4 linked regions of the Homo sapiens genome follow. The protein of the gene in region 1 interacts with the protein of each later gene in a pairwise test. Each region holds a gene or a part of one and is shown in the gene's direction. Other genes may lie near its edges.

Region 1 (7,433 bases):
GAGGTCAGGAGTTCGATACCAGCCAGCAAGATGGTTCAATAACAGCCGTCTCTACGAAAACTACAAAAATTAGTTGGGCATGGTGGTGCATATCTGTAATCCTAGCTACTCGGGAGGCTGAGAAAGGAGAATCGTTTGAACCTGGGAGGTGAAGGTTGCAGTGAGCCGAGATCGTGCCACTGCACTCCAGCCTAGGCGAAAGAGCAAGACTCCATCTCAGAGGGAAAAAAAAAAAATCACATGGGAAGCTTTTAAAAATACTGACAATGTGCCTCTACCTTACAATGGCTGGAGATAAGGCCCAAGTGTGAGGTTTCTTTCTTTTTTTTTTTTTTTGGTTTTTTTTTTTGTGAACAGAGTCTCACTCTGTTACCCAGGCTGGAGTACAGTGGTGCGATCTCGGCTCACTGCAAGCTCCGCCTCCTGGATTCATGCCATTCTCCTGCCTCAGCCTCCTGAGTAGCTGGGACTACAGGCGCCCGCCACCACACCCGGCTGATTTTTTTGTATTTTAGTAGAGATGGGGTTTCACCGTGTTAGCCAGGATGGTCTCAGTCTCTTGACCTCGTGATCCACCCACCTCGGCCTCCCAAAGTGCTGGGACTACAGGTGTGAGCCACTGCACCCGGCCAGGGTGGGTTTTTTTTTTTTTTTTTTTTTAAAGCAATCCAGATGATTTCAAGGTGAGACCCAGTTTAAGAATCAGTGCTCTCGGCCGATGGCCCAAGCCTGTAGTCCCAGCACTTTGGGAGGCTGAGGAGGGCGGATCACCTGAAGATGGGAGTCAAGACCAGCCTGACCAACATGGAGAAACCCCATCTCTACTAAAAATACAAAATTAGCCGGGCGTGGTGGCACATGCCTGTAATCCTAGCTACTTGGGAGGCTGAGGCAGGAGAATAGCTTGAACCCGGGAGACAGAGGTTGAGGTGAGCCGAGATCCTGCCATTGCACTCCAGCATCCAAGAACAAGAGCGAAACTCTTTCCCCGCCAAAAAAAAAAAAAAGAAAGAAAGAAATGTTGTCTCAGTTCCTACCCTTTTCAATCAGAATATGCATTTTGATAAAATCCCCAAGTGATTTGTTTGCACATTAAAGACTGTGGGAGCAGTGCTTTGAGCCAGTAGTTCTCAGTGGTGACCAAACATTAGAATTACTTTTTTACTTGAGGAGTTTTTTTGTTTTGTTTTGTTTTTTCTTTTTTCTTTTTTCGAGACAGAGTCTCGCTCTATCACCAGGCTGGAGTGCAGTGGTGCAATCTTACTCAAGGAGTTTTTAAACAATTGATACCTTGGCTCCCCCTCAGAGAGATTCTGGGGTAAGTCTGGCTATTAGTGTTTTTAAATAAAAGATTTGACCGGGCACAGTGGTTCACGCCTGTAATCCCAGCACTTTGGGAGACTGAGGCGGGCAGATTACCTGAGGTTGGGAGTTCAAGACCAGCCTGACCAACATGGCGAAACTCCGTCTCGACTAAAATTATAAAATTAGCTGGCCGTGTTGGTGCATGCCTGTAAACCCAGGTACTCGGGAGGCTGAGACAGGAGACTCACTTGAACCCGGGAGGCGGAGGGTGCAGTGAGCTGAGATTGCGCCATTGCACTCCAGCCTGAGCAACAAGAGGAAAACTCCGTCTCAAAAAAAAAAAAAAAAAAAAACATTTAAAAGTGCAGCCAAGGCTGAGAAGCACTGCACTAGCCCAGTTGCAGTGCTGCTTTTGCTGTCCCTGGGGCAAGAGGTAGAACTCCAAAGCTTCTTAAAAGTAGGACAGCAATGAGTAGAGAAATATTTTCTTAAATAAATGAACTATACATAACATTTTTCTGGCAATTTTGCAGAAGGATCTAATATAAAACAATATTGACACATTTTCATGGTTTCTCTCCTATAGGCTCAAACTGTCCAGGTTGCTGAAGTTGAACCACAGTCACAGCCACAGCCTTCCCCAGAACTTCTGCTTCCAAATTCTTTGAAGCCAGAAGAAGGGCTTGAAGTATGGAAAAACTGGGCCCAGACCAAGAATGCTGAACTAGAGAAGGATGCTCAGAACAGATTGGCACCCATTGGGAGTGAGTGTCTTGGAAGAAGAGTGGGCTGTGTCTAAAATGCAATGGTACTAAAGTAACAGGAGGACAAAATGCCAGAAAAGTGGTGTCTCCTGTCTTGGGGACAAGAGAGCAACATCTGTAATAGTATGTTGAATTCAAGCCTAGTAACAAGCAGTACTGACCTTGTGTACATAATAAGCAGGATATGTGGGGTTTGCCCAAAACCAGGCATTTTTAGACATACGGGTTTCAGGAGTTGACCCTACCAGACCTAAGCAGAGTGGCTTCTGGGAGGAAATGGGAACCAGGGATAGGCACTCAAGCCCTTCTTTCTTGGCATTAGGCTCATATACTCATGTTATAGGCCAGTTCTGACATTACAGGCATGAAACATTCTAGTAGATACAAGTGAGCATTTCTATCCCAGCACCCTGATGGGCAGTATCTGTTCTGAGCCTTCCAGATATGGACCCCCAGGACCTTCATTCATTTTTGAGGCTTCCGTTGCAGGGCGCCAACTGCTGCGATTCCAGGAAGATCTCATCTCCTCTGCTGTGGCAGAGTTGAATTATGGGCTCTGTCTAATGACACGGGAAGCTCGAAATGGAGAAGGTGAACCCTATGACCCAGATGTGCTCTACTATATTTTCCTGTGTATTCAAAAGGTAGGAAACAGATCTTCACAAGAACATGTTTGAGCTGTGTTCCTATTGGATGTTTGCTAGTTTAGTTAATAAATTGATAAGCAAGAAGTTAAAATAAGGAAGTTCTCTTTCAGGTATACAGTGAGTTTTAAAATACACATTTGTTGTTTTTTTTTTTTTTTTAAGTTTTAAAAACCTACACGTTCACTTTAGAAAATAACAGCCGGGGCCGGGCGCTGGTGGCTCACGCCTGTAATCCCAGCGCTTTGGGAGGCCGAGGCAGGTGGATCACTTGAGGTCAGGAGTTGAAGACGACCAGCCCAGCCAACATGGTGAAACCCCATCCACTAAAAATAGAAAAATTTGCCAGGTGTGGTGGTGCACTGCCTATAATCCCTGCTATTTGGGAGGCTGAGGCATGAGAATCGCTTGAACCCGGGAGGTAGAGGTTGCAATGAGCTGAGATCACAGCATTTTACTCCAGTCTGGGTGACAGAGCGAGACTCTGTCTCAAAAATTAAAAAAAAAAGAAAAGAAAAGAAAAAAAATAAGAGCCAGGCAAGATGTCTCACACCTGTAATCCCAGCACTTTGGGAGGCTCAAGGCAGGAGGATCGCTTGAGCCCCAGGAGTTTGAGACCAGCCTAGGCAACATAGTGAAACCCCATCTCTACAAAAAATTAGCTGGGTATGGTAATGCATGCCTGTAGTCCCAGCTACTTGGGAGGCTGAGGTGGGAGGATTGCTTGAGCCCCAGAGGTTGGGGCTGTAGTGAGTCATGATTATGTCACTACACTCCAGCCTGGGTGACAGAGTGAGACCCTGTCTGAAAAACGAAAAGAAAAAAAATTAGCTGGGTGTGGTGGCACACACCTGTAGTCCCAGCTATTTGGGAGGCTGAGGCAGGAGGATCCCTTGAGCTCAGGAGTGCGAGGCTGCATTCAGCTATGATTGTGCCATCACACTTCAATCTGGTCTACAAAGCAAGACCTTGCCTCTTAAAAAATAAATACATAAAATAAATAATAAAATAGGAAAACAAACATTATTCATCCTACTACCTAAACTTCTATTACATTATTGGTAATTACCTTGACTTTTTTTTTTTTTTTTTTTTTTTGTAATTCACAAAGCATTTATGTAACACTTTTCTTTTTGTTAAACCTGATTTTCATGAAGGTAATTTATTCAAAACAGAGTCTTGTGCCAGCATAGAGGTTTTCTTCTCATTGTTCCCTGCACTAACTACTTATTTGAAGGAGTCTAGCTAGAATAATATACCAATGTAGTTAGGTTTTCAGGACATCTGTGGTGAAGCATAACAGAAATTTGCAGACTGGCAGTTCAAGGGAGCAGAGGTGGATTTCTTAGTGTTTGAAGGCTCTTGAGGAGAAACCCACAGTATAATAGAATAGGGCTTACTGGTTGGGACTTATTCTGTTGCCTAGTCTTGAGAAATGTCTGCCTCCTAGTTTTTTCCTCTCTTGGTGGTCCTAACCTAAGTACTATGTGAATTGCTTTACATGCTTTCATTCTTTGCTCTCCCAGTCCTGGAAGGCAGATACCATCATCTCCATTTACAGGCAAGGAAACTGAGTCTCAGAAATTAAAAGACTTGCACATGTTGTTTAACTTATACAATATCTAATGGAAGGCTGACCCCAGAGCCTATTCATGATTTTTGCTAACACAAAATAATGCCTTTCTTGGGTGAAATAGCATTCACAACATCTGCCTTATTTACCCAACTCTCAAGAATGTCATGAGAATCAGTCACATGAGCTTAGGCATACTATGGAAGTGTCACATGCTGGTGCCTTGGTTTGTTGAGGTGTGAATGGGTAGGGAAGGATAGTAGTACTGGTAGAAAAATATATTTATTTCCCCTGAAATCCTTGTTCAGGAGACTACCAATAACTTCTATTAATTGTTTTTCTTTTAGTATCTTTTTGAAAATGGAAGGGTAGATGACATTTTCTCCGATCTTTATTATGTTCGGTTCACGGAGTGGCTACATGAAGTTCTGAAGGATGTTCAGCCCCGGGTCACTCCACTTGGTAAGAGTCTCCCTTGTCCTTGGATATCTTTCCTACCTGGATTTAAGAAAGATCAATAGCTTCTGTGGTTGGCTATGAAAAGCATGTGAGTGAGGGGGGATATAAATCCCAGACTGCAGCAGCATTGGCCACTGTGCTACTTGCCCTGATAGGGAAGAGGCACTGCTCACCAGAGAAGCCTGCTGGTTCCAGTGTGGGAAGGACACAGGAACAAGCAGAACTAGTGGGGTAGTTACTATCTTTTTTTTCCTATTAAAATGTATTGATTAAAATTAGAATCATAACAATTAAGGATTATGGACAGTTTTATCTGTAGAGCATAATTTTTGCTTTACTCACAGGCAGCCTTCTGGACAGCATGTTCTATTGGAACAAAAGCATAGGTTATTCAGTGTTTTTCTTTGTTTGTTCTTAAAAAAACATGGTCTTGGTATGTTGCTGAGATGGGCCTCAAACTCCTGAACTCAAGCGATCCTCCTACCTCAGCCTCCTGAGTAGCTGGAGCTATAGGCATGCGCTACTGTGCTCAGCTATTTTTGTTTTGTTTTGTTTTGTTTGAAACGGAGTCTCACTCTATAGCCCAGGGTGGAGTGCAGTGGCACGATCTTGGCTCACTGCAGCCTCCGCCTCCCAGGTCCCAATTCAGGCAATTCTCCTACCTCAGCCTCCTGAGCAGCTGGGATTACAGGCATGTGCCATCATGCCCTGCTAATTTTTGTATTTTTAGTAGAGACAGGCTTTTGCCACATTGGCCAGGCTGGTCTCAAACTCCTGACTTTGTGATCTGCCCACCTCGGCCTCCCAAAGTGCTGGGATTACAGGCGTGAGCCACCACCGTGCCTGGCCTATTTTTGTTTTTAATAGACTTTTTTTTTTTTTTTTTTTTTTTTTTTGAGACAGAGTTTTGCTCTTGTTGCCCAGGCTGGAGTGCAATGGTGTGATCTTGGCTCACTGCAGCATCCACCTCCCAGATTCAAGTGATTCTCCTATCCCAGCCTCCCAAGTAGCTGGGATTACAGGAGCATGCCACCACGCCTGGCTAATTTTTGTATTTTTACTAGAGACAGGGTTTCATCATATTGGTCATGGTGGTCTCGAACTCCTGACCTCAGGTGATCCGCCCACCTCGGCCTCCCAAATGCTGGGATTACAGGCATGAGCCACCACGGCCAGCCAATAGACTTTATGTTTTAGAGTACTTTTAGGTTTCCAGAAAAATTTAGCAGTAAGTACAGAGAATTTCCATATAACTCCTTAAGTATATACCCTCACACACAGTTTCTCCTATCAATAACATGTTGCGTTAGTATGGTACATTTGTTATAATTGATAAACCAATATTGATACATTATTGTTAACTATAGTTCATAGTGCTATGAACTATATTATTGTGTTGTACGTTCTGGTTTACATTCTGTATCTGTTGTACATTCTGAGTTTTGATGAATGTATGATGACATGTGTCACCATCATGGTGTCATATAGAATGTTTACTGCCCTAAAAAATACCTCTTCTGGGCCAGGCATGGTGGCTCACACCTGTAATCCCAGCACTTTGGGAGGCAGAGATGGGCTGATCACTGAATATTGGGAGTTCAAGACCAGCCTGGCTAACATGGTGAAACCCCATCTCTACTAAAAATACAAAAATTAGCCAGGTGTGTTGGCAGGTACCTGTAATCCCAGCTACACGGGAGGCTGAGGTAGGAGAATCGCTTGAACCAGGGAGTCGGAGGTTGTGGTGAGCCAAGATTGCGCCACTGCATTCCAGCCTGGTGACAGAGCGCGACTCCGTCTCAAAAAAAAAAACAAACCTTTTCACCTGTTTATCCCTCCCTCCCCCAGATACCCTGAAAACCACTGATGTTTTTACTATCTTCACAGTTTTGCCTTTTCCAGAATGTCATATAGTTGGAATAATTCGGCATGTGGCCTTTTCAGATTTGTTCCTTTCATTTAGCAATATGCCTTTAAGATTCCTGTGTGTCTTTGGCTGGGTGCAGTGGTTCATGCCTATAATTCCAGCACTTTGGGAGGCCGAGGCATGTGGATCACAAGGTCGGGAGATCGAGACCATCCTGGCTAACACGGTGAAACCCCGTCTCTACTAAAAAATACAAAAAAATTAGCCGGTTGTGGTGGTGGGTGCCTGCAGTCCCAGCTACTCGGGAGGCTGAGGCAGGAGAATGGCATGAACCTGGGAGGCAGAGCTTGCAGTGAGCTGAGATCGTGCCACTGCACTCCAGCCTGGGCGACAAGAGCAAGAGTCTGCCCCGTGCCACCCCCGCCCCCCCGCCCAAAAAAAAAAAAAAACACAGTCTGGGCGCGGTGGCTCACGCCTGTAATCCCAGCACTTTGGGAGACCAAGGCAGGTGGATCACTTGAGACCAGGAGTCCGACACCAGCCTGGCCAACACATAAAACGTTGTCTCTACTAAAAATACAAAAAATTGGCTGGGAGCTGTGGTTCACACCTGTAATCCCAGATAATCCCAGAGCTTTGGGAGGCTGAGGCAGGTAGATCATGATATCAGGAGATCGAGACCATCCTGGCTAACACTGTGAAACCCCGTCTCTACTAAATACAAAAAATTAGCTGGACGTGGTGGCATGTGCCTGTAGTCCCAGCTACTCGGGAAGCTGAGGCAGGAGAATTGCTTGAACCAGGGAGGCAGAGGTTGCAGT
Region 2 (7,433 bases), on another chromosome or scaffold:
GGCGCCCACCACTGCGCCTGCGGTGTTTCACCTTGTAAGCCAGGATGGTCTCGATTTCCTGACCTCGTGATCCGCCTGCCTTGGTCTCCCAAAGTGCTGGGATTACAGGCGTGAGCCACCGTGTCCGGCCAATACACAGGTTTTTTTTCTTAAAAGTTCTACTCATTTTTCTTTTCCCTTTACCACATCAATAGATACTTACATGGAAGTGCTTACATTTGATTGTTCAGTATTGTAGAGAGGTTTTTTTGTGTTTTTAAAATTCATCATTACCAAATTTAGATTTTTTGGATGCCAGTATTTTGTGTTTTTTTTAAAACAAGGTTTCATTCCAAATGTAAGGAGGGTTAGCAAAACCTCGTTTTTCTCTTTAATTTTTTTTAAAAGTACATTTATAAAATCTTTGTAGATTTCATGTAACTTTTGCTTTGCAGGGAAGATGCAGGTGTGAGCCACCGTGCCCGGCCTCATATAGATTTTTAAAACTTGAGGTAGCTTGTGAAGTTATTTCTACTAACTTTATAAAACTTTTGAGATTGCTATGTACAGTTAGTTTTGTGGGTTTTTTTTTTTAAGGGAAGTGAAGATTGCATTCTCTTAGGCTGTTTAGTTACTCAGAATACTAGATTGGCCTAGCCAAACCTGTAAAGGTATTTATTTGGTAGAGAAAATTTGAAGCTGTGGTTTCATTTGTATCTCCATTTGAAAAAATACAGTTGTTTCTTGGTGTCCACAGGGGATTGGTTCCAGGACCCCCCTGCCCATACCAAAATCCAAGCGTGCCCAAGTCCCTTATATAAAATGGTGTGGTATTTGCACGTAACTAACACACATCCTCCCATATTTTAAATCATCTGTGGATTGCTTGCAATACCTAACACAATGTAAATGCTGTGTAAAAAGTTGTTATACCGTATTGGTTTTTTTATTTGTATTTTTTGTTGTATTGTTTTATTTTCTTAATATTTTCAGCCTGGGGTTAGATGTGGAACCTGTAGATACAGAGGGCCAACTCTATATTGAATAGAAAATAATAATAATAGAAAATATGTGATTCTGGCTGGGCGTGGTGGCTCACACCTGTAATCCCAGCACTTTGGGAGGCCAAGGCGGGTGGATCACCTGAGGTCAGGAGTTTGAGACCAGCCTGACCAACATGGTGAAACCTTATCTCTAATAAAAATACAAATATTAGCCCGGTGTGGTGGCGTGCATCTGTAATCCCAGCTACTCTGGAGGCTGAGACAGGAGAGTTGCTTCAACCTGGGAGGCGGAGGTTGCAGTGAGCCGAGATCGAACTCCAGCCTGGTGACAGAGCAAGACTCCATCTCAAAAAAAAAGAAAGAAAGAAAATATGTGATTCTAATAAATCCCCCTTCCGTTCTGTAAACTTTCGTATTTACTTTGTGAGTTGTTAATTGGATTAAATTTTGTTTGCTTAAATTTATAAGTATTGTTATATTCAAGAGAGATGAAGGCTTATTTTGTGCCTTTTATAGTGGTAATGAAAATTTGTAACACTTTAAATTGCAAAAGAGAAAAATTAAACCTTTCTAATCAAAAGATCTAATGGTTACCACCATACCCATATGATCAACCTTAGCATTGCTGTTAGACGGCCTGACGCAGTGTGCCTGCTGTGTGTTGCAGGAAGGGGCACACTGCCTCACCTGGGAAGTGTTCCTGCCTAAAAGCTTTACCCTGAATTCGATCAGGCCTTTAACCTCCAGGTTTCAGGAATTACAAGGCATAGAGGAACAAGCTCAACTAAATAACCAGGTAGTTATTAGACAGATCTAGAACAAACAGCATTTTACAAGATAGTGTCAGAGGAAAAAAAGGAAGAGGAGATGAAGATGATGGTGATGATGATGATGGGGAAGAGGGACTGTTCTTAATCAAGACACTTAAAAACCAAAAGCATTTCAGGAACTTTGGTAGGATCCTGGTTCAAAAAAAAAATCAGCTGTTTAAAGGACATTTTTGGGATATCTTGGAGAATCTGAATGTGAACTGGATGGGAAATGACATGGGAATTAGTGATTTTATTAGGGGTAGTAATCTGACAGGAGAATGTCCACGGTTTCAGGAGATTGGGGTGAAGTGTCATGATGTCTCCAACTTTCTTTCAAATGGTCTAGCAAAAAATACAGGTGTAAGGGCAAGAAGTATGGTAGAACATTAACAATAATTGAATGTATAGAAATGATTTTCTTTTAAAAACTTTTTTTTGTAGATTCATAATAAAGGAGATAGGAAGGATTCTATATCCTAGTAGGAGGGAACAAAACTCTTATCCCCAAGTATCTTTTGAAAGTGACTAAGTTTACTGTAAACCTTTCACAGAAATGGAGAAAATCTCATGTTTTTGAAAAAGCTGAAAGAAAATAATATATGATTATAGTAATAAATTAAAAGGCTGTTGTTTTGAGATTATGGTTTTCTCATATCTCAAAGGTTTGTTGCAGGGACCAGAAAGAAAATCTTTGTTGCAAACAGTGTGAATTTTAATTTGAAACTTCAGTATGTTTTCCTTGTTTTTGATGATTTTAGAGCCAAAGGACGAAACAAAGTACAGTCCTCGCCCCAGTCATTGACCTGAAGCGAGGTGGCTCCTCAGATGACCGGCAAATTGTGGACACTCCACCGCATGTAGCAGCTGGGCTGAAGGTAAGCCCGCGCCTGCCTGTGAGCTTGATACGTGTCTCTGTTCCCATGTGGCTTATTTTGCATATGAGTTACTCTTAACAGATGGCCTCCTTGGTGGGCCTTTGAAACCAAGTTAGTATCATTTTCCACCTAATTTTTACTTCTGTTTTGCCAATTTTAAAATGTATCTATTTGAAATTAAATAGTTTGTTGTAGAAAAATCAGAAACTAGAGATACGCAGAAAGAAAAACAAATTACCTTCAGTCATACAATCCGGAAGTGAAAAACGTAATATTTTTCCATCCTGTGCCTACTCCACCTTCTGCTAACTTGCTTTTCTTACTTAATACGTTGTGACTCTGTCAAAAAATACAGGACTGTATGATCACGTTTATGGCTTCACTATATTCCCTTGTATATAGATGGACTATAATTTAATTCCTTTAATGCTGGATATATGGGTTGTTTCTATTTTTTGCTATCATAAACAGTGTTAGTACTTACTGATTTATTGTGGATTAAAACAGAGAAAGGGGTTTTAAAACCCACTTCTACCACCCTAACCTGTATGATTCCAGTGATTTTACATATGCTTAAAAACAAACATGTGGTCAACTCTATAAATTGGGTTATTGAGGATGAAGAAGATCTGGAAAAGGATAACTCAAAATCATAGTTAAAACTAGACAAAATGAGGTAAAATGAGTGAATAAACTAGTTAAAATTATACCCACAATTTAAGTATACATTTATCTTTCCACAGATGGCGTTCAAATAATGACTGTGGTCATTTAAACAGCATCATGAATTGCACAAAACCGCTTGATGAAAAATGACCAAAAGATTAATAATAGTGCTATCGAGACAGTTTCTTAGCAAGGCGCGCCTGTCCTCCCCACCACCTGTGGGAAGGGCTGCATCAGGCTGGGGCAAAGGGCACACTCCTGCCCATCTGTTTCACGTCACTGTTCTGGGTTGGGCTCCGTCTCCTGCCTGTCCTGCTTATGTTCTGGGCCAGTCTGTGGCTGCAGCTTACCCTTGAGTTGTCCTTTTCTGAGGGGAGCGGGTGCTGTTCCTGAGGGCTGGTAGTTCTTCTGGAGGGGAAGCACCACATGGTGGAGGTGTTTTTTTGCTGATTCCTAGTCATTGAGCATTTTCCCCCATAAATTTGATACCTAGTTTATTCCTGCTACATCTAATTTAAAAACTGGTTCATAGTTTCTTCTGTAATCGTGTATTGGTTCTAGTACCTATAATATTAGTCTCCTATTTAATGAGTAAGCCTTTTTCCTCCTTGTTACATAGTTTTCACGATCAGTTTTTAATTCTCATTAAGCGAATGCATCATAATTTACACAAGTATTCCCTAACTGTAAAACCACCTAGATTTGCTTTTACATTGCCTTTATAAATACCACTCTAATGAACATCTTTTTGTGGTTTTTATTTTTGAGACAGGGTCTTGCTCTGTCACCACGCTGGAGAGCAGTGGTGCAATCTTGGCTCACTGCAGCCTCCTCCTCCTGGGCTCAAGCGATCCTTCCACCTCAGTCTACTGAGTAGTTAGGACCACAGGCATATGCCACCACATTTGACTAATTTTTTGTAGAGATGAGGTTTCACCATGTTGCCCAGGCTAGTTTTGAACTCCTGAGCTCAAACGATCCACATGCCTTGGCCTCCGAAATTGCTGAGATTACAGGCATGAGCCACTGCACCCGGCCCTCTAATGAACATCTTTACAGAGATGTTTCTATGTAATTAGGGTTATTTTCTTAGATTTTCTGAGGTGGCATTAAGATATCAGCCATTTTTATGGCCAATCTGTTCTGGCACCAGTTTACTCCCAGCAGTGCACAGTATCACCTCAGGCATATGAGGGTGAATTTTACCCCATCCTCCCCCCTCAGCATTGAGGGTATTAACATTTTAATTTTTTTAAATTGAACAAATCACTTTATTCATTGCAGCATTTAGAAAAGGATGATTGATTTCATTGTTAAGCATAGCAGGGTTTATATGTAAAAGTTTTTTTCTTTGAAATTTTGAAGTGTCAGAGAATGAACCTTCATATTGACAGTTTGTTCTCTTAGACACGTTGTGATAATTGTGTTAGATAAATTGAGTGGCTGGTTGTCATTTTCTCTCTAAATAATAACTGAAAAGAAATCTTCATGTGCTTTTGTATTTTTTAAATGTCTTTTATAAAATGAATACAAATGTATAACTAACCTTTAGGAGCCCTACATTAAATACATTTTCCAGTGGGTAGGGCCTGGGAGGTGATTATAGTTATTTTCCTAATTGCTCTTATTCATTGGATCATAGCATTTCCTGATATTTCGTCGTAAGGAAATGGTGAAGTGTTTGTTTTATAGTGCAAAATGTCACACCGAACCATGAAACACAGGAACTGTTCGATTTAGGTCTGTTAATATGGCGTGTAAGCTGTCTTGATTTTGTCAGTTCTGTGTTCAAGCAGGAAACACGTTTACAAACGACCTTCTTGCCTTTGATACAGTTGGACATTGTACCTCCTGTAAGAGGTACAGACTGGGCGCTCAAGGACATGAATCCTTGTTGTTTTGCATGTGTGTTTTAAAAAAAATGGGGACACTAATCCTAACCTGTGCTTGTTTGAGGTGTCTTTCAAAACCAGAGAAGGCATCTTATTGTTACAGATAATAACGAAGAATTATGCTAAGAACACTAACAGGAGAAAGTGTGGGAAGGTTTAGGAAAGTGGGGTCAGGGCTTCCAGCACCACGTGTAGACCGAGGCTGCCAGCCTAGGGTAAAGTTCTGTGTCTGCTCATGTATTTCCTAGTATACTGGCTGTGCTCTGCCTCTCGTTTTGCTAATTTCTTTGTCATGGCTACCTCTTTTCTTTCAAAGAGTAGACCAAGTTTCTGAATGTATAGACGAGAAAACACGAAGTGTTATCTAAACCTGATTTTAGTGAACCTTAAAAAAAATTATGATGCTGGAAGGGACATTACATCCCCTTGTGTCAAACTCAGTGCCTGAAATGCAGCCTACCTGGGAAGGGACATGTGTTCAGAGGATTAGAAAGACCAAGAAGATGCTTTCTAAGATCTCCATATATTCTTATCTCCATGTAATCAGAATCTGAAGTTATTCTGTTAAAATGATGACTGCAAGAATGATTGTGGTGTTCATGGTTGTTTTATTTTTTAAGTTGTCATAGAGATCTATAAAAACAAGTATTCAGTGCTTTACTATAAGTATTCTAATTTTTTGACTCAAAGTACTAGTAACTTATATTTTAGCTGGTGGTGGCTTATTTAGGAATTCCAGGAAAAATGCCATAGAGTATTATAGAAATAGTACTAATCTAAGAGGTGAAATTTTGTGTCCTGTTTCTGCTACCACCTGACTAGGCACGTGGCCTTGTCTGGTATTTGTTTTCTTTGTCTTTAAAACAGAGGAAGGGGCTAGATGATGTTCAGAGTCCTTTTATCTCCCATACGCTTTGACCTGAATCCTGTGAGTAAACTGGTAAGATATAAAGAGGATTCTTACTGCTGTTTTTACCTTCCTCAGGATCCTGTTCCCAGTGGGTTTTCTGCAGGGGAAGTTCTGATTCCCTTAGCTGACGAATATGACCCTATGTTTCCTAATGATTATGAGAAAGTAGTGAAGCGCCAAAGAGAGGAACGACAGAGACAGCGGGAGCTGGAAAGACAAAAGGAAATAGAAGAAAGGGAAAAGTAAGGCTTCCTTTGGATTTGGGGATATTTTACAGTTGAAATGTTCATTAAAATGTTAACGAATGAGCGTCGCTGCTGTCTGTAAGGCTGAAGTTAATTGTCATGGGTGATCTGAGCAGTCACTACAAGGAATCAAACTGTTTTACGATTTGTACCTGTTACATCTCAGAATCACAGCAAACTTCACCTGTAGACTGAAGACCTAAAGTGTATATTTTGAGTGAGTTGTTAGAAAAATAACTTATAAACCTGATGTTGAAAATTTTTTTCTATGCTGATACTCTGCTATAGGTTGACTATCCCTTATTCAAAAATCCGAAATCTGAAATGCTCCAAAATCTTTTGAATGCCAACATGCCGCTCAAAGGAAATGTGCATTGGGGGATTTTGGCTTAGGGATGCTGAACTGGTAATTGTAATGCAAATATTCCAAAATTTGAAACACTTCTGGTCCCAGGCATTTGGAATAAGGGATTCTCAACTTGTAAAATCACAGCTATTTAAAGTACTTGAAATATTCTTCTTAACTTTACTATTTTTGAGCCAGGTGGAATTTTTAAAAATTCATATGCAGCTTTTATTTATGTTTTTGCAAAGTACGAGTAGTAGGATGTATTTGTAGTTCTTTTTAAAAATATTTAGTATTATCAAATAGTTAACATGTATTAAATATTAATATACTGTTTCCCATTTATTGAATCATTTCATGAGTGAAAGTGTTATAGACTATTGAAATGATTGAACTATTACTATGTTGATAGGCTTTAACATTGGAAGAGGTCAATGTCAAGGAACCTTTTTTTTCATGCTGGTTGCTCTCGTATACTTATTGGTTCAATTTATCTCTTGAATTTTTCTCACTTTTCATACTTTTATCTACTTTAGTCTTTTACCAGTTATGCTTCCTACCCCCTCTACCCCTGCAACTTCATAGTTGATTGTGACAGGATTTGGATATCTTCTGGTCAAGAGGAAGTCATCCCAGGTTCAGGTCTCTAAATTGGTTCATCTGTGATGAACATTTATTTCCTTTGTTATCACAGAAGGCGTAAA
Region 3 (7,433 bases), on another chromosome or scaffold:
CTACTCTGGAAGCTGAGGCAGGGGAATCACTTGAACCTGGGACGCAGAGGTTACAATGAGCTGCGACTGCGCCACTGCACTCCAGCTTAGGTGACAGAGCAAAACTCCATCTCAAAAAATAAAATAAAATAGTGATAAAAATTGATTCCATTTGGCCAGGCGCAGTGGCTCACACCTGTAATCCCAACACTTTGGGAAGCCGAGGCAGGTGGATCACTTGAGGTCAGGAGTCCAAAACCAGCCTGGCCATCATGGTGAAACCCCATCTCTACTAAAAATACAAAAATTAGGCTAGGCACGGTGGCTCACGCTTGTAATTCCAGCACTTTGGGAGGCCGAGGCGGGCGGATCACCTGAGGTTGGGAGTTCGAGACCAACCTGACTAACATGGAGAAACCCCATCTCTACTAAAAATACACAATTAGCCAGGCATGGTGGTGCATGCCTGTAATCACAGCTACTCGGGAGTCTGAGGCAGGAGAATGGCTTGAACCCAGAAGGCGGAGGTTGCGGTGAGCTGAGATTGCACCATTGCCCTCCAGCCTGGGCAACAAGAGCAAAACTCCTTCTCACAAAAAAAAATAAATAAATTTAGCTGAGCGTGGTGGCGCACGCCTTTAAGCCCAGCGATTTGGGAGGCTAAGGCAGGAGAATTGCTTGAACCCAGGAGGCAGAGGTTGCAGTGAGCCAAGATCACACCATTGCACTCCAGACTGGGCAACAGAGTGAGACTTTGTCTCCACAAAAAAAAAAAAAAAAAAAAAAAAATTGATCCCATTCATATAGTGATTCACCATTTACATCAAATTTTCTTTCATTTAATCTCCACAACCATAGGAACTATGGCAGATTTTTATTTACCAGTTTTACAGATAATATACAAATAAAGGTGAAATGATAAAGTATGAGAACCTAGGTCATAGTTGCTGCCTTGTGCTACTCTTCCAATATATCACATCCAGCCCTCTTTCGCTTATGATTCTCATTAAAATAAAGCAAAACATGAAAACATAGTATACTACACTGTGATTCTGCCTCAAGTTTATAAGGTTAATAAATTCTGTGGAGTTGGTAGAAGAGATCTGAGAGGTCAAATAATCCAGGCTCCACTGTTTTACAAACAAATTTTAGGCACAGAGAATCTAAGTGACTTGTCCAAGTTTAAATTGCTTTATATTTGATTCATATTTTCAGTCCCCTTATTCATGGAAAAATACTTTCAAAAACTTTAGTAGGGACACTATTCAGGTAGAACATTAATAATTGACTGAAAGCTGGACACTGTGGCATGTACCTGAAGTCCCACCTTGAGAAGCCAAGGCCTGAGGATCACTTCAGCCCAGGAGTTCCAGGTTGCAGTGCACTATTATCCCATTTGTGAACAGCCAGTGCACTCCAGCCTGGGCAACAAAGTGAGATCTCTGTCTCAAAAAAAAGAAAAAGTTGATGAAGAGTAGATTGAATATGGTTTTATAGTACTTTTAAGTTAAAAGCTGGGGATTGATATGGTAGCTTATGCCTGTAATCCCAGTGCTGTGGGAAGCCAAGGCAGGAGGATTGCTTGAGACCAGGAGTTCAAGACCAGCCTGGGCAACATAGCAAGACCTCATCCCTACAAAAAAATTATAAAAATTAAGGCTGGGCGCGGTGGTGCGCACCTATAATCCCAGCACTTTGGGAGGCCAAGGCGGGCGGATCACGAGGTCAGGAGATCGAGACCATCCTGGCTAACACGGTGAAACCCCATCTCTACTAAAAATACAAAAAATTAGCCGGGCACGGTGGCTGGCGCCTGTAGTTCCAGCTACTCGGGAGGCTGAGGCAGGAGAATGGCGTAAACCCAGGAGGTGGAGCTTGCAGTGAGCCAAGATCGCGCCACTGCACTCCGGCCTGGGCAAAAGAGTGAGACTCCGTCTCAAAAAAAAAAAAAAATTATAAAAATTAGCTGGGTATGGTGGTGTGCATGTAGTCCTAGCTACTTGGGAGGGTCACTGGAATCCAGGAGTTTGAGGCTGCAGTGAACTACGATCACTACTGCACTCTAGCCTGAGTGACAGAGAAAAACTTTCTCCCTTCTCCACACCAAAACAGTTAATTAAAAGCTGCCCTTTAAGAATGTTTTTAAGGGCCGGCCGTGGTGTCTCACGCCTGTAATCCCAGCACTTTGGGAGGCCAAGGCAGGCAGATCACTTGAGGTCGGGAGTTTGAGACCAGCCTGACCAACATGGAGAAACCCTGTCTCTACTAAAAATACAAAATTAGCTGGGCCTGGTGTGGCACATGCCTGTAATCCCAGCTACTCGGGAGGCTGAGGCAGGAGAATCGCTTGAACCTGGGAGGCAGAGGTTGCAGTGAGCCAAGATCGCGCCATTGCACTCCAGCCTGGGCAACAAGAGCAAAACTCCGTTTCAAAAAAAAAAAAAAAAAAAGACTGTTTTTATGGGGAAAGCATTTTAAATCAGCTTCATTTCAACTCATTAGGACTTTTTTTATTTTTCAGCTCTAAGTACATTTAAAATATGAGTAGATATAAGATATTACATAGAGAAATGCTTTTTTTTTTTTGAGACGGAGTCTCGCTCTGTCGCCCAGGCTGGAGTGCAGTGGCAGGATCTCGGCTCAAGGCAAGCTCCATCTCCCAGGTTCACGCCATTCTCCTGCCTCAGCCTCCCGAGTAGCTGGGACTACAGGCGCCCGCCACCACGCCCGGCTAATTCTTTGTATTTTTAGTAGAGACAGGGTTTCACCGCGTTAGCCAGGATGGTCTGGATCTCCTGACCCTGTGATCTGCCCGCCTCAGCTTCCCAAAGTGCTGGGATTACAAGCGTGAGCCACCGCGCCAGGCCTGGTTTTTTTTTGTTTTTTTTTTTTTTGAGACAGAGTTTCACTCTTGTTGCCCCGGCTGGAGTCAGTGAGTGGCATAATCTCGGATCACTGCAACCTTGGCCTCCCGGGTTGAAGCAATTCCCCTGCCTCAGCCTCCCGAGTAGCTGGGATTACAGGTGTGTGCCACCACGCTTGGCTAATTTTTTGTATTTTTAGTAGAGGCAGGGTTTCACCATGTTGGCCAGGCTGATCTCAGACTCCTGACCTCAGGTGATCCACCGCACTCGGCCTAGAAATGTTCTTATATTTGTAATTTTCCCAACTAGAAATGCAAATGAAATTAAATTTATAAAGGATTAGTCATTGTAAGTCTTCCAAAAAAGTTAGTAAGTGAAGTCATTAACTTTTAATAGATTTTCCAGCTGGGCATGGTGGCTCACGCCTGTAATCCCATCATTTTTGGAGGTTGAGGCGGGTGGATCACCTCAGGTCAGAAGTCCGAGGCCAGCCTGGCCAACATGGTGAAACCCCATCTCTACTAAAATACAAAAATTAGCTGGGCATGGTGGCGCACGCCTGTAATCCCAGCTGCTTGGGAGGCTGAGGCATGAGAATTGCTTGAACCCAAGATGGGGAGGTTGCAGTGAGCCGAGATGGCGCCACTACACTCCAGCCTGGGCAACAGAGTGAGACTCCATCTCAAAAAAAAGAAAAACAAAACATTGATTGTTCATCTATTAACTTTTAATAGGTGAACCATCTCAAAGTGAAATTTATTAAACAAAAAGTCTATTTATACTAACAGCACTTTAGAGAATACCCAGTTTGTAATTATTCTGACATAATTATACCAGGGCTGGGTGAACGTTTATCTTACATCAATGTAAGGTTGCAGAAGAAACTTAACTATTTAAGAAAATAAGCTATTTTCAAGTACTTCTATTAGTATTGTAGCAGGACAAGCCGCAGACAAAACCCCTCAGACACCGAGTTAAAGAAGGAAGGGCTTGGCCGGGCGTGGTGGCTCACGCCTGTAATCCCGGCACTTTGGGAGGCCGAGGCAGGTGGATCACCTAAGGTCAGGAGTTGGAGACCAGCCTGGCCAACATGGTGAAACCCTGTCTCCACTAAAAATACAAAAATTAGCCAGGTGCCTGTAATCCCATCTACTCGGGAGGCTGAGGCAGGACAATCGCTTGAACCTGGAAGGCGGAGGTTGCAGTGAGCTGAGATCCTGCCATTGCACTCCAGCCTGGGGGACGAGAGTGAAACTTCGTCTCAAAAAAAAAAAAAAAAAAGAGGGAAGGGAAGGAAGGGCTTTATTCGGCCATTCGGCAAGAATCCCGTCTCCAACAACCTAGCTCCCTGAGTGAGCAATTCCCGTCCCTCTTAAGGGCTTACAACTCTAAGGGGGTCCGCGTGAGAGAGTCCTGATCGATTGAGCAAGCAGCGGGTACGTGACTGGGGGCTGCATGCACCAGTAATTAGAATGGAACCGAACAGGACAGGGATTTTCACAATGCTTTTCCATAAAATGTCTGTATTCTACAGATAACATAACCGATTAGGTCAGGGGTCGATCTTTAACTACCAGGCCCAGGGTGTAGTGCCGGGCTGTCTGCCTGTGGATTTCATTTCTGCCTTTTAGTTTTTACCTCTTCTTTCTTTGGAGGCAGAAATTGGGCATAAGACAATATGAGGGGTGGTCTTCTCCCTTAGTATTTTTGGCATTAGCATTAGAATTAAAATTAACTTCCATCTAAATCAGTACACATTTCAGTTCTTTTGTAAGTAATGCTGTGAATTAAATTTTTCTACAATAAAGTTTCTTAGGATAGAATTCACAATCAGAATTTCAGGATTCAGTCATGACATTTTTTAGAGTTTTTCATGCAGTTTGTTGGTTTTTTTAAACATTGTTATATATATAGAGAGAGAGAGAGATAGAGTCTTTTGCTCTGTCACCAGGCTGGAGTGCAGTGGCGTGATCTTGGCTCACTGCAACCTCTGCCTCATGGGTCCAAGGGATCCTCTCCTGCCTCAGCCTCCCGAGTAGCTGGGACTACAGGCACATCCCACCACAACCAGCTAATTTTTGTATTTTTAGTAGAGACGGGGTTTCACCATGTTGTCCAGGATGGTCTCAATCTCTTGACCTCGTGATCCGCCCACCTTGGCCTCCCAAAGTGCTGGGATTTACAGGTGTGAGCCATTGCGCCTGGACGAAACTTGTTATATTAATTTATCAAGCCATCATCAATGCAAAGTGCTTTTCAGTGCCAAAATTATGTATCATCTATATATAAAACTACATATATATATTTAATTTACATATTACATTGTAGTACATTGTAGTAAATGGCACCACCATCCGCCCAAGTGTTTGTCCAGAAACCTGGAAGTTATCCTAGATCTGTCCTTTTCCCTCACCACCCACCTCCAATCAATCATGAGATCCTGTGAATTCTACTTCCAAAATATATTTCAAATTTGCTCCATAGGCTGGGCGCGGTGGCTCACACCTGTAATCCCAACACTTTGTGAGGCCAAGGTAGGTGGATCACCTGAGGTCAGGAGTTCGAGACCAGTCTGGCCAACATGGTGAAACCCTGTCTCTACTAAAAATAAAAAAAAATTAGCTGGTTGTCGTGGTGAGCTCCCATAATCCCAGCTAGTTGGGAGGCTGAGGCAGGAGAATTGCTTGAACCCGGGAGGCGGAGGTTGCAGTAAGCCGAGACTGCACCATTGCAGTCCAGCCTGGATGACAGAGCGAGACTCTGTCTCAAAAAACAAACACACAAAACAAAACAAAACAAACAAATTTGCTCCATCTCCATGCTACCACCTACTATATATTGTCATCATTACTCACATGGACTACTGCAGCTCCTCACCACATTCACACAGGCCCTAACAACAGCCAAAGTAATTTTACTAGAATTATATTACCTCATGTCACTCCTCTCCTTAAAACCCTTCAATAGTTTTTCATTGCTTTTACAATAAAGATTCAGATTTTAAACACAGTCAACAAAACCCTAAGAGATCTAACCCCTGGCTCTCTATTCTGATCTCATGATATTTTCACCCTAATTTACTTGACTTTTGCCATACTTTGTCCCCACTTCTATCTTTTACTTCCTTGCCTTATAGTCAATCTTAGATTGAATGGTACTTCAGTGGAATGGCTTTCCCTAACCCCCAACACTAGATAAGAACCCCCATTCTGTCTTCATTAATATCTTGTATTTTTTTTTCTTCATAGCAGTTATCACAATTGTAATTATTCAGTTAGCTATGTAATTAGTTATTTAATGGCTGCCCACATACCCAGGCTAACCCTGGATGTTTATCTTGTTCCTTTCTCACTCTAAAATCAAGCTGTACTTCCTCTTCTAACTATGACTTTTACAGATTTTTCCCTATGATTTACAGATTTTTAAATAAATTCTCATAGTTCTAGTACAGAATGTTTAAAAAGGTAACTTAGCATATTTTTGACAACTTTGCTCTGTGTACAGGTGTATGTGATTTTAAGGGTAGTCTTCAACGTCAAGAGAAGAGACCACCAAACAGGCTTTGTGTGAGCAATAAAGCTTTTTAATCACCTGGGTGGAGGCGGGCTGAGTCCGAAAAGACAGTCAGCGAAGGGAGATAGGGGTGGGGCCGTTTTATAGGATTTGGGTAGGTAATGGAAAATTACAGTCAAAGGGGGTTATTCTGTGGCGGGCAGGGGCAGGGGTCACAAGGTGCTCAGTGGGGGAGGTTCTGAGCCAGGAGAAGGAATTTCACAAGGTAATGTCATCAGTTAAGGCAGGAACCGGCCATTTTCACTTCTTTTGTGATTCTTCACTTGCTTCAGGCCATCTGGATGTATACGTGCAGGTCACTAGGGATATGATGGCTTAGCTTGGGCTCAGAGGCCTGACATTCAATGCCCTCAAGAGAACAGAATTCCTGAAAAAGGGAAGTGGGTGGGACTGAATTAAATTTTTTTTTTTTCAGAACTTTATAATGGAGAATGATTTTATGTGTTTATCTTTTAGGATAAGAAAAGTACTTCACCTTCAAATTCAGACACAGAAATGAAATCTGAACAACTGCCTCCTTGTGTGAACCCTGGCAATCCTGTGTTTTCATGTATGTTGGATCCAAAGACACTCCAGACAGCCACCTCACTATCAAAACCTCAAATGATTATGTATAAAACCAATTCAAGTCATTATGGTGAATTTCTACCTATTCCACAGTTTTTCCCCTGCAATTATACTCCAAAGGAGCAAGTATTTTCAAGCCATATCAGAGCAACTGGATTTTATCAAAATAACACTCTAAATACTGCACCTGACAGAACCAGAACTCTTGATTTTCCTAATATTCAACACACTCTATGAAAATATATTCCTTTGTATATTGAAGAGAAAATATACTCGGGAAAAATGAGTGTTAAATCTAAGGGTAGAATACCTAATAAAGAAGATAAAAAGTTTTGAATCAATTTTTAAAATAAGTTAAATAAAGTATTTCAACTGATAACTACATGACAGTGACTTTTTAAATGAAAATATGTTCAAAATAGCAAAATAAAAGGTAGAAAGTGTTTTAGT
Region 4 (7,433 bases), on another chromosome or scaffold:
CACATAGCTAAATCTTTCTCACACTTAAGACCAGTTCATCCTGCAGGCCTCTGATAGCAAAGAAAAAAAAAGTTCAAGTAGTACCTTTTTTTTTTTAAGCCTTGTTGATTTATCCCCAGCTGGAACAAATCTCTGTCCTCCAAATTCCCATATCACTTTATCTCTTAGGATTCCAGTATAGGTTTTTAGTCCATTACTAAACTTAAAGACTCTTTGAAGTTTGAATCTTCGTCAGAGATTTCTTTTTATTTTTAAAACCTTCAGAACAGTGTCTGGCACATGGTACATAATTAGTGGAGAGAAGTGCATTAGAAAGCTCCAATCCAGAAATCTGTAGGATGATGGGGAAGCTGGACAGCCCTTTGTTGTAGTCTAGTCTTTCATCAAGCGTCTATCAGGACCCACTTGTTGAGTTGTGAAAGAAATTGAGTGAGCCAATGCTGGGAATTTTTAAATAATAGAATAGAAAATATCTGCCAGGCATGATGATGGCTCACGACTGTAATCCCAGCACTTTGGGAAGCCGAAGTGGGAGAATCCTTTGAGCTCAGGAGTTTGAGACCAGCCTGGGTAGCATAGGGAGACCCCCTCTCTTAAAAGAAAAAAAAGAATAGAAAATACCAAAGTGCATCTTGTGTTGTATAAAGGTAAATGCTGTTTCATGAAACTTTCATTTCAGTTACATGCTTTATACATGTGTGCACTGAGTTGTGATAATGAAATGTGTTTCTTACTAAGGGTTGTGGTCAAAAAAGTTAAAAAGCTACTGTTCTAGGCTTTGCCTGGTAGTGATTATCAACTGTGATAATCCTATGGCTTTTCATATGCTTACACTAGTTGAGTTTCTGAAGAGGTTTTAGCTTTGGAGTTTGTGTAGGTCCACATAGAATGGGTTCCTAGTAAGTGGTTGGCTAAGTCTCAGCTTTTGCACCTTGGAATAGTGGGGCAAAGAGAATTGCACTGAGAAGAGAATGCACTAGGAAGAGAATTTTCATGCTAGCCAGAATAAACACTTATTATTTGTTTCTCTCTCTTTGAGGAAAAACCATTCAAAACTTTGTGTTAAGAGCAAGAGCTAGACAGACTAAATCTGGCTTAGTTTGTCATAATCTTGGGCAAAGAGGCACTTTGGGAAAGACTATCGAATTGTATTGCAGTCTTGCTAACTGAAGCTCACAGTAGTAGGAACATATGACTTTACTGAAGCCAGTTGCTTATAGCATTAACCATTAACAGTATCAATATCATGATACAGGCTAAATCACTCTGTCATTAATGTGAGAGAGAATTGCTGCTAGATTTGAAGCTGCTCTTCAAATCTTGATACTCTTCAAAGTATAAATTTAAATATTGCTAAATTGGTTCATTTGTATTACCAGAATAAACTAGTTAAGAAGAAAATCTGTACGTTACATATATTAGTCATTATGTGCTTCAAGTTATATTTAGTCTTGTAAAGATGTAAACTTCTGGATATTAGTCAAGGAAAAAATCTCATATAAGAAGGAAATTTGGAGTTGGGGAGGCGTTGAAACCTAAAAGACATTCCTTTCATGATCCTTATTTTTTAAAATCAATTTATTGAGAGATACTTTAGAAACAAAGTATAATAATTTTAAATGTGTATTTTGATGAGTTTTGACAAATTTGTACACCTGTGCAACTGCTACCACAATGAAGATATAAAACATTTTCATCACCCTACAATGTTCCTAAGGCTCCATGCCAGTCAACCTCCCTCTTTCCTGTCTCCCTGTATTCTCCACTCCCAAGGAACCACTGATCCATTTTCTGTCTCTAGATTACTGATGTCTTTTGGAGATTTTATATAAATGGAATCATATATATTCGTTTACATCATAACCTTAATTTTATTAGTTTATAGCCATAAATGTATTGTGTATTAGAGACAAGATAGAATTTAGGGAAGCCTGTTAGTGCCCCTAACAGACTCACAGTCTGGCTGAAAACCTGATTTTCTATTCTATACCCAGAATCTCTGAGGAGCAGACTTAGTCAACCAATTCCAAAGAGACTGGTGTAAAAATCAGAAAACCGGTTTGTCATGTTGCTGATTATATTTGCTCCCTGTTGGCCAATCTATATGTAAATCCAAATTATAGCTAGAAATTTACCTAGCGAGCATTCCATTAGATCAAGGGCAGTGCTTTGGAGAACCATATGGCCACAAGTCCTCTTGCTGTGATGACATAGCCTGTTATTTATGGCTCATAGATTCTTATGTTGTATCCATTTTGGTTATGAGTAATGGGGTTGATTAATTTTTATTTTGATTAAATTTTGTTATATTTTTCCTAACATTCCAACATTCATTTGGGAAATAAGAATTTCTCAAAATTCTTATTCTAGAAATAAGAATTTTCAAGTGTGCAGTGAAATCAAAGGAATTTGAAAATAAACACCTGTATACCTGCCAGTTAGGGTCTATTAACATCTTACTATAATTGCCTTACCAGATATTTCTCCACCCATTCATCCATTTTTTGATGCATTTCAAAGTAAATTTTAGATATCAATACACTTCTTTCTAAGTACTTGGACATATAGTTGCACATATTTTGGTTTCTTCTTTCACACTGTATTGAGACACCTTGCAAATGATTAATTCCACCAGCATGTGTGGATTTATGGAGAGTGGTACTGTACTTTGCCACGATAATGAGCAGCTCAGTTAGGTCACGTCATTTTATTATTCAGATGTTGGAATTTATGAGGGCCTAGTGAAAAATCAGAGAGAAAGACCTATCTACATTTTTGTTTATATATCTGTCCTCCCTCCCATATTTCCAAGATGAATTGCCGATTGCTAACTTATATCATTTTAATTTTTTAATGAAGTCTTTATTAAAGGTTCTCAGATATCATTCAGTTTATCTAATTGTATCCTTATTTTTAAAAGTGGATCTTCAACTCTTAAAGTCTATGAGAAGGGTAAATTTTGCCTACCATATGTAGTGGACCTGAGTAACATGTTTGGTGGGAAGCAATTACGTGTTACAACTTAAAGAAGCTTTATTCTCTAAAGTATATGTGCAAACCTGAAAATCAGTGTTAGGTATGCCTTGTATCAAAGTGATGTAGCTTAACGAGTATCTCTTAGGTGCAAGTATTGCTCTGACAGTATTGAAAGGTAAGGTTGCCAGTATACTGAAAGCATTTTAGAAACGTGAAAATAGCATTATGTTGTTATGATTGTGCCATGTAATCCCAGTTAAAAATGATACTGAATATAAGCATTTCCTATTCTCCTATCCTGTTTTCTTGCAAATAAAGTACAGTGATAAATTATCCAGGTTAATTGTCTGGTAAGGCCTTTATTGACAATCTCACTTTAGTTTCTTTCCCCACCTTTCTAACAGGAGTGTACCTCACAGCCTTCTAGGATCTCCAGAGTGGACAGGAATCTCACTTGGAGGGACCATGGAGCAGTATACAGCAAACAGCAATAGTTCGACAGAGCAGATTGTTGTCCAGGCAGGACAGATTCAGCAGCAGGTATGGAAGCAAAACTGCTTTAAACATTACAGCAATGAAACTGATAACAGCACCACTCAATTGGTTGGTCTATTGCCCTGGGGAATTATTTGAAAGATACCAGATCTTGTGAGATATTGGGTCTGATGGCTTGTGCTGAAATGCCATGTCTAGCCCATGACCACTTAGAATCTACTCTTCATGGGTGCCTGGTTATAGTAAATTGCCTCTTTTATCTCATTTTAAGTAAAAACATCTAGTCTGGTTTTCAGATGGAAATTTGGACTTTAAAATTTTTCTGGATTCTATTTGGTCTTTTTCTCTTCTTGTTTGAGCTAACTTGTGATTTAGTAAGTCTTTGGCCACAACAGACAAACCAACATAGCTTCCAATAAATCTTCTGTTTTTTGATTTGGTCTGCCACATTTTTTATTCAGAAAAGCTCTGGTTTAACATTAGGATAATATTTAGACAGCCATTCTTATGGATAAGACATACTAGAAAGGAATTCCCTGCTGCTGGTTTATTCCTAATTAATAGATTGCTTTCTTGAATTTATACACAGGTTACATTTTCTGATGCTTTATGCTTGGGTTTATTATAGTAAAATTTCACTTTTTTCCCCACCCCAGAAGAAAAAAATGTATTATGTTTCTATTTGACCTTAGGCCAAGATTGATATTTTGGAAATACTTTGTTTTCAAAATGGAATTTAGCTAATATAGAAAAGTAGTAGGGAAGGGAAAGGTAGTATTGATGATGAGTTTTTCCCGTCTAATGATCAAAGACGAACTCCCCTGATAGCTTTCCCTTCCATACAGCTGCTGTGGCTCTGGCAGTTTCCTTCAACTGCCTTTTTAGAGGAAGGGATTCCACAAAGGGCCCTCCATTCACACCAGTGCCCTGGAGGGTGGGTTTTTATTCTTTCAGAATTTGCCATTAGTGGATGTAAAAATAAGGTTGAATCATTGAAAACATGGCTCTTAAAGCAGTCCAGTTGGGTAGAAATAATCTTAGTTTTGAAGCTGGGCATGGTGCTGCATGCCTGTAATCCCAGCTACTCTGGAGGCTGAGACAGGAAGGTTGGCTTAAGCCCAGGAATTCAAGACCAGCCTGGGCAAAACAGCAAGACCCCATCTCAAAATAAGTACATAAATAAAGTTTAAAAAAAAAAGAATCTTAGTTTTGGGACATGAGAGCATTGACGTCATGAAGATGATTTCGGTTCATAGTGATTAATTACTCCTCCTTTCTTGGTGATTGCATTTAAGCCCAGAATTTTTTATGGTAGTTTCAGGGCTATTAAAACCTAATCATTTTTTTCTTGTGAACTCATCTGAGGAGATAAAAAGGGCATTAAACAATTGTGTAAGTAGAAGTGTCAGATTCCTGTTTCTGGAGGGAAAGATTGCATTACAAATCTTTGTGTTAATGATGACAACTGTTTTGAGTTTTTGAGTCAAATTTTTGAGGTCCACTCTGGAGACAAAGGGCTAATATCTTTAATCCTACTACCTTCAACAAAACAGCTTCAATATAGGGAGTCTGTACATTTTGAAAGTCCTTCAGGCTTCCGTCTCTCTCCTCCAAGAGGTAAGGTGATCTGTGTCTTGAACTACACATTTCCTTCCTGACATATTTCAAGCTCTTCCTGTTCCTGTTCTCAGCAGCAGGGTGGTGTCACTGCTGTGCAGTTGCAGACTGAGGCCCAGGTGGCATCCGCCTCAGGCCAGCAAGTCCAGACCCTCCAGGTAGTGGTACCCTCTCTGATTCTCTGTGAGCACTGCATGAACTTCTCCTCTCCTCATGTCTGGTGCTGTTTGTGTTAGGATCTCCAGTAGGAATGGCAAAGTCAGTTGCATGTCTTTGATGCTGCTAACTTGTCTTTGAGGCTTATAAGATGCCAGTTTCCTAATATTTCATGCCAAGTCATATAGAGACCCCGTATCAACTTTCTGAGAATTGGATTTGACTAGCATGTTTCTTTGAGAATGCCTGGAAAAGAAATGGTATAAGTGACAGGAAGAAATTCTTATAAGTGACATTAGAATTTATTCAGGGCTCGGCCGGGCGCGGTGGCTCACGCCTGTAATCCCAGCACTTTGGGAGGCCGAGGCAGGCGGATCACGAGGTCAGGAGATCGAGACCATCCTGGCAAACATGGTGAAACCCTGTCTCTACTAAAAATACAAAAAAATTAGCCGGGCATGGTGGCGGGCACCTGTAGTCCCAGCTACTTGGGAGGCTGGAGCAGGAGAATGGCGTGAACCCAGGAGGCAGAGCTTGCAGTGAGCAGAGATTGCGCCACTGCACTCCAGCCTGGGTGACAGAGCGAGACTCCGTCTCAAAAAAAAAAAAAAGAATTTATTCAGGGCTCACACTCTGATCCAATTAATTGCATGGTAAAAATTTTGTGTATTTGTGTTACAATGGAGAAGGAAATATATACATATACAGACACACATAAACTAGGCTAGGCTGTGCTTTATTTTTATTCAAGGGGCAACTCAACTGAAAAATAATCATTGCACTTGGCAAGGTTTATCTAAGCACTGAATCTTGTTAATCTCTTGTTAACTGCTATTGTTTCCACTACCTTTCCTGGGGGAATAGTGACCTGTCTTATTACTAGATCTGCAAAGATTACCCCAGATACCTCTTGGTTAGGCAGAAGCAGGATGTGCTTTCTGTAAGTCTTAGGTGTTAAAGCCACTGTGATAATTCTTGGTTAATCAATACAGTTCTTTAGCATCGTGTATGGCTAAGTATCCTAAATTGGGTTCTAATTTGGCCAGTTCCTATAAAACACAGGAGTAGCAGCACTAGTCTACTCTGTGTATGTAGGTTACTTTTATTAAAATAACTCTATTTTTGAGAAATTGGCAAGATTTGGGTACCCTACTTTTTCCCTCCATTGAATTAGAAATGATTCAAAGTAGAATCTAGAATGTAGAACTGGCATCTCACTTTATTGCTAGTGCTGCTAAGCATCCAGCAGATAACTACCTCTTATTGTCATCACTTTATCCTTTCAATCCCACCCCTACCCCTGCCACCAATAGTGTTTGGTAATGATGTACAGCCAACTTTGAACATAAATTAAGCCGAAAGAAACTGAGCTTGTAGGCATTCCAAAATTGTGTTCAAATCTCACAGTCCAACAGCTTGTTAATGTTTTTCATGCTTGCTTCATCTTACTCATATATAAAACAGTATTTTGGATTGTCATTAACCCCTTGTGGAATAGGAATGTAACATGCTCTTAACTGTATGGCTTCTTGTTTGATGCATGTGTCTTTGTAACATTTTTCTGTTGTAAATACAGTGAGCTCTTTGGAGTCTCAAATCATTTATCATGTGCACGAATAGCACATCAATTGGGGAGGAAATTAAGATGATGAATAGATAGAAAATTATTAATAGCTGTATCTTAAAACTTGTGTTTCCTACTTACATAGATTTTATTTAAAAGAAGTGGAAACACTTTATGGAAATAATAGAAACCTTTCCTCTAGGGATCTGATTATTTTGGGAGAATTTTAAATAGTTATTTTGGTTATTCTTGCTATATGTATTCTGAGAAATCTTTCTTGATACAGAATATGCAAGCATTTGGTGTAGCAAAGGGGATTTGATTTGGAATGGGGAAATAAGGGAAAGAGATAGCATGAGAGAGTCAGGCTGTAAAGTCCTTAAAAAAGTAAAGTAAAGGTTCTCAATGGACAGTTTAACAAAACTTAGGATTTCAATGTTCCTGGTGATTCTAATACATTAGTGGTGGTGGCAGTGGCGGCGGTGGTGGTGGTGATTGTAGGAGGACCTTACTATCTAACCTACTCATCTAGGACAGAATGATCTGTTAACTAATTGCTGTTACTTGCACATACTTTCATTAAGTGTGAATATTTCAGTCATGAATATTCTGTTCTAAGTAATTT

The links.
Region 2: the proteins of QRICH1 (region 1) and RBM17 interact in binary tests that used the Homo sapiens proteins (3 or more experiments, as listed by UniProt).
Region 3: the proteins of QRICH1 (region 1) and PIERCE2 interact in binary tests that used the Homo sapiens proteins (3 or more experiments, as listed by UniProt).
Region 4: the proteins of QRICH1 (region 1) and NFYA interact in binary tests that used the Homo sapiens proteins (3 or more experiments, as listed by UniProt).

What each region holds. Positions count from the first base shown.
Region 1 is NC_000003.12:49,041,705-49,049,137, reverse strand, and holds part of QRICH1 (transcriptional regulator QRICH1), read left to right. Parts: intron 1-1,891; coding exon 1,892-2,069; intron 2,070-2,558; coding exon 2,559-2,713; intron 2,714-4,633; coding exon 4,634-4,748; intron 4,749-7,433. UniProt on the Homo sapiens protein: Transcriptional regulator that acts as a mediator of the integrated stress response (ISR) through transcriptional control of protein homeostasis under conditions of ER stress.
Region 2 is NC_000010.11:6,098,718-6,106,150, forward strand, and holds part of RBM17 (splicing factor 45), read left to right. Parts: intron 1-2,553; coding exon 2,554-2,670; intron 2,671-6,213; coding exon 6,214-6,380; intron 6,381-7,423; coding exon 7,424-7,433. UniProt on the Homo sapiens protein: Splice factor that binds to the single-stranded 3'AG at the exon/intron border and promotes its utilization in the second catalytic step. Involved in the regulation of alternative splicing and the utilization of cryptic splice sites.
Region 3 is NC_000015.10:55,411,351-55,418,783, forward strand, and holds part of PIERCE2 (piercer of microtubule wall 2 protein), read left to right. Parts: intron 1-6,404; exon of another isoform or gene 6,405-6,684; coding exon of another isoform or gene 6,685-6,783; intron 6,784-6,872; coding exon 6,873-7,220; 3' UTR 7,221-7,433. UniProt on the Homo sapiens protein: Microtubule inner protein involved in the attachment of outer dynein arms (ODAs) to dynein-decorated doublet microtubules (DMTs) in cilia axoneme, which is required for motile cilia beating.
Region 4 is NC_000006.12:41,075,649-41,083,081, forward strand, and holds part of NFYA (nuclear transcription factor Y subunit alpha), read left to right. Parts: exon of another isoform or gene 1-50; intron 51-3,380; 5' UTR 3,381-3,441; coding exon 3,442-3,516; intron 3,517-5,162; coding exon 5,163-5,249; intron 5,250-7,433. UniProt on the Homo sapiens protein: Component of the sequence-specific heterotrimeric transcription factor (NF-Y) which specifically recognizes a 5'-CCAAT-3' box motif found in the promoters of its target genes.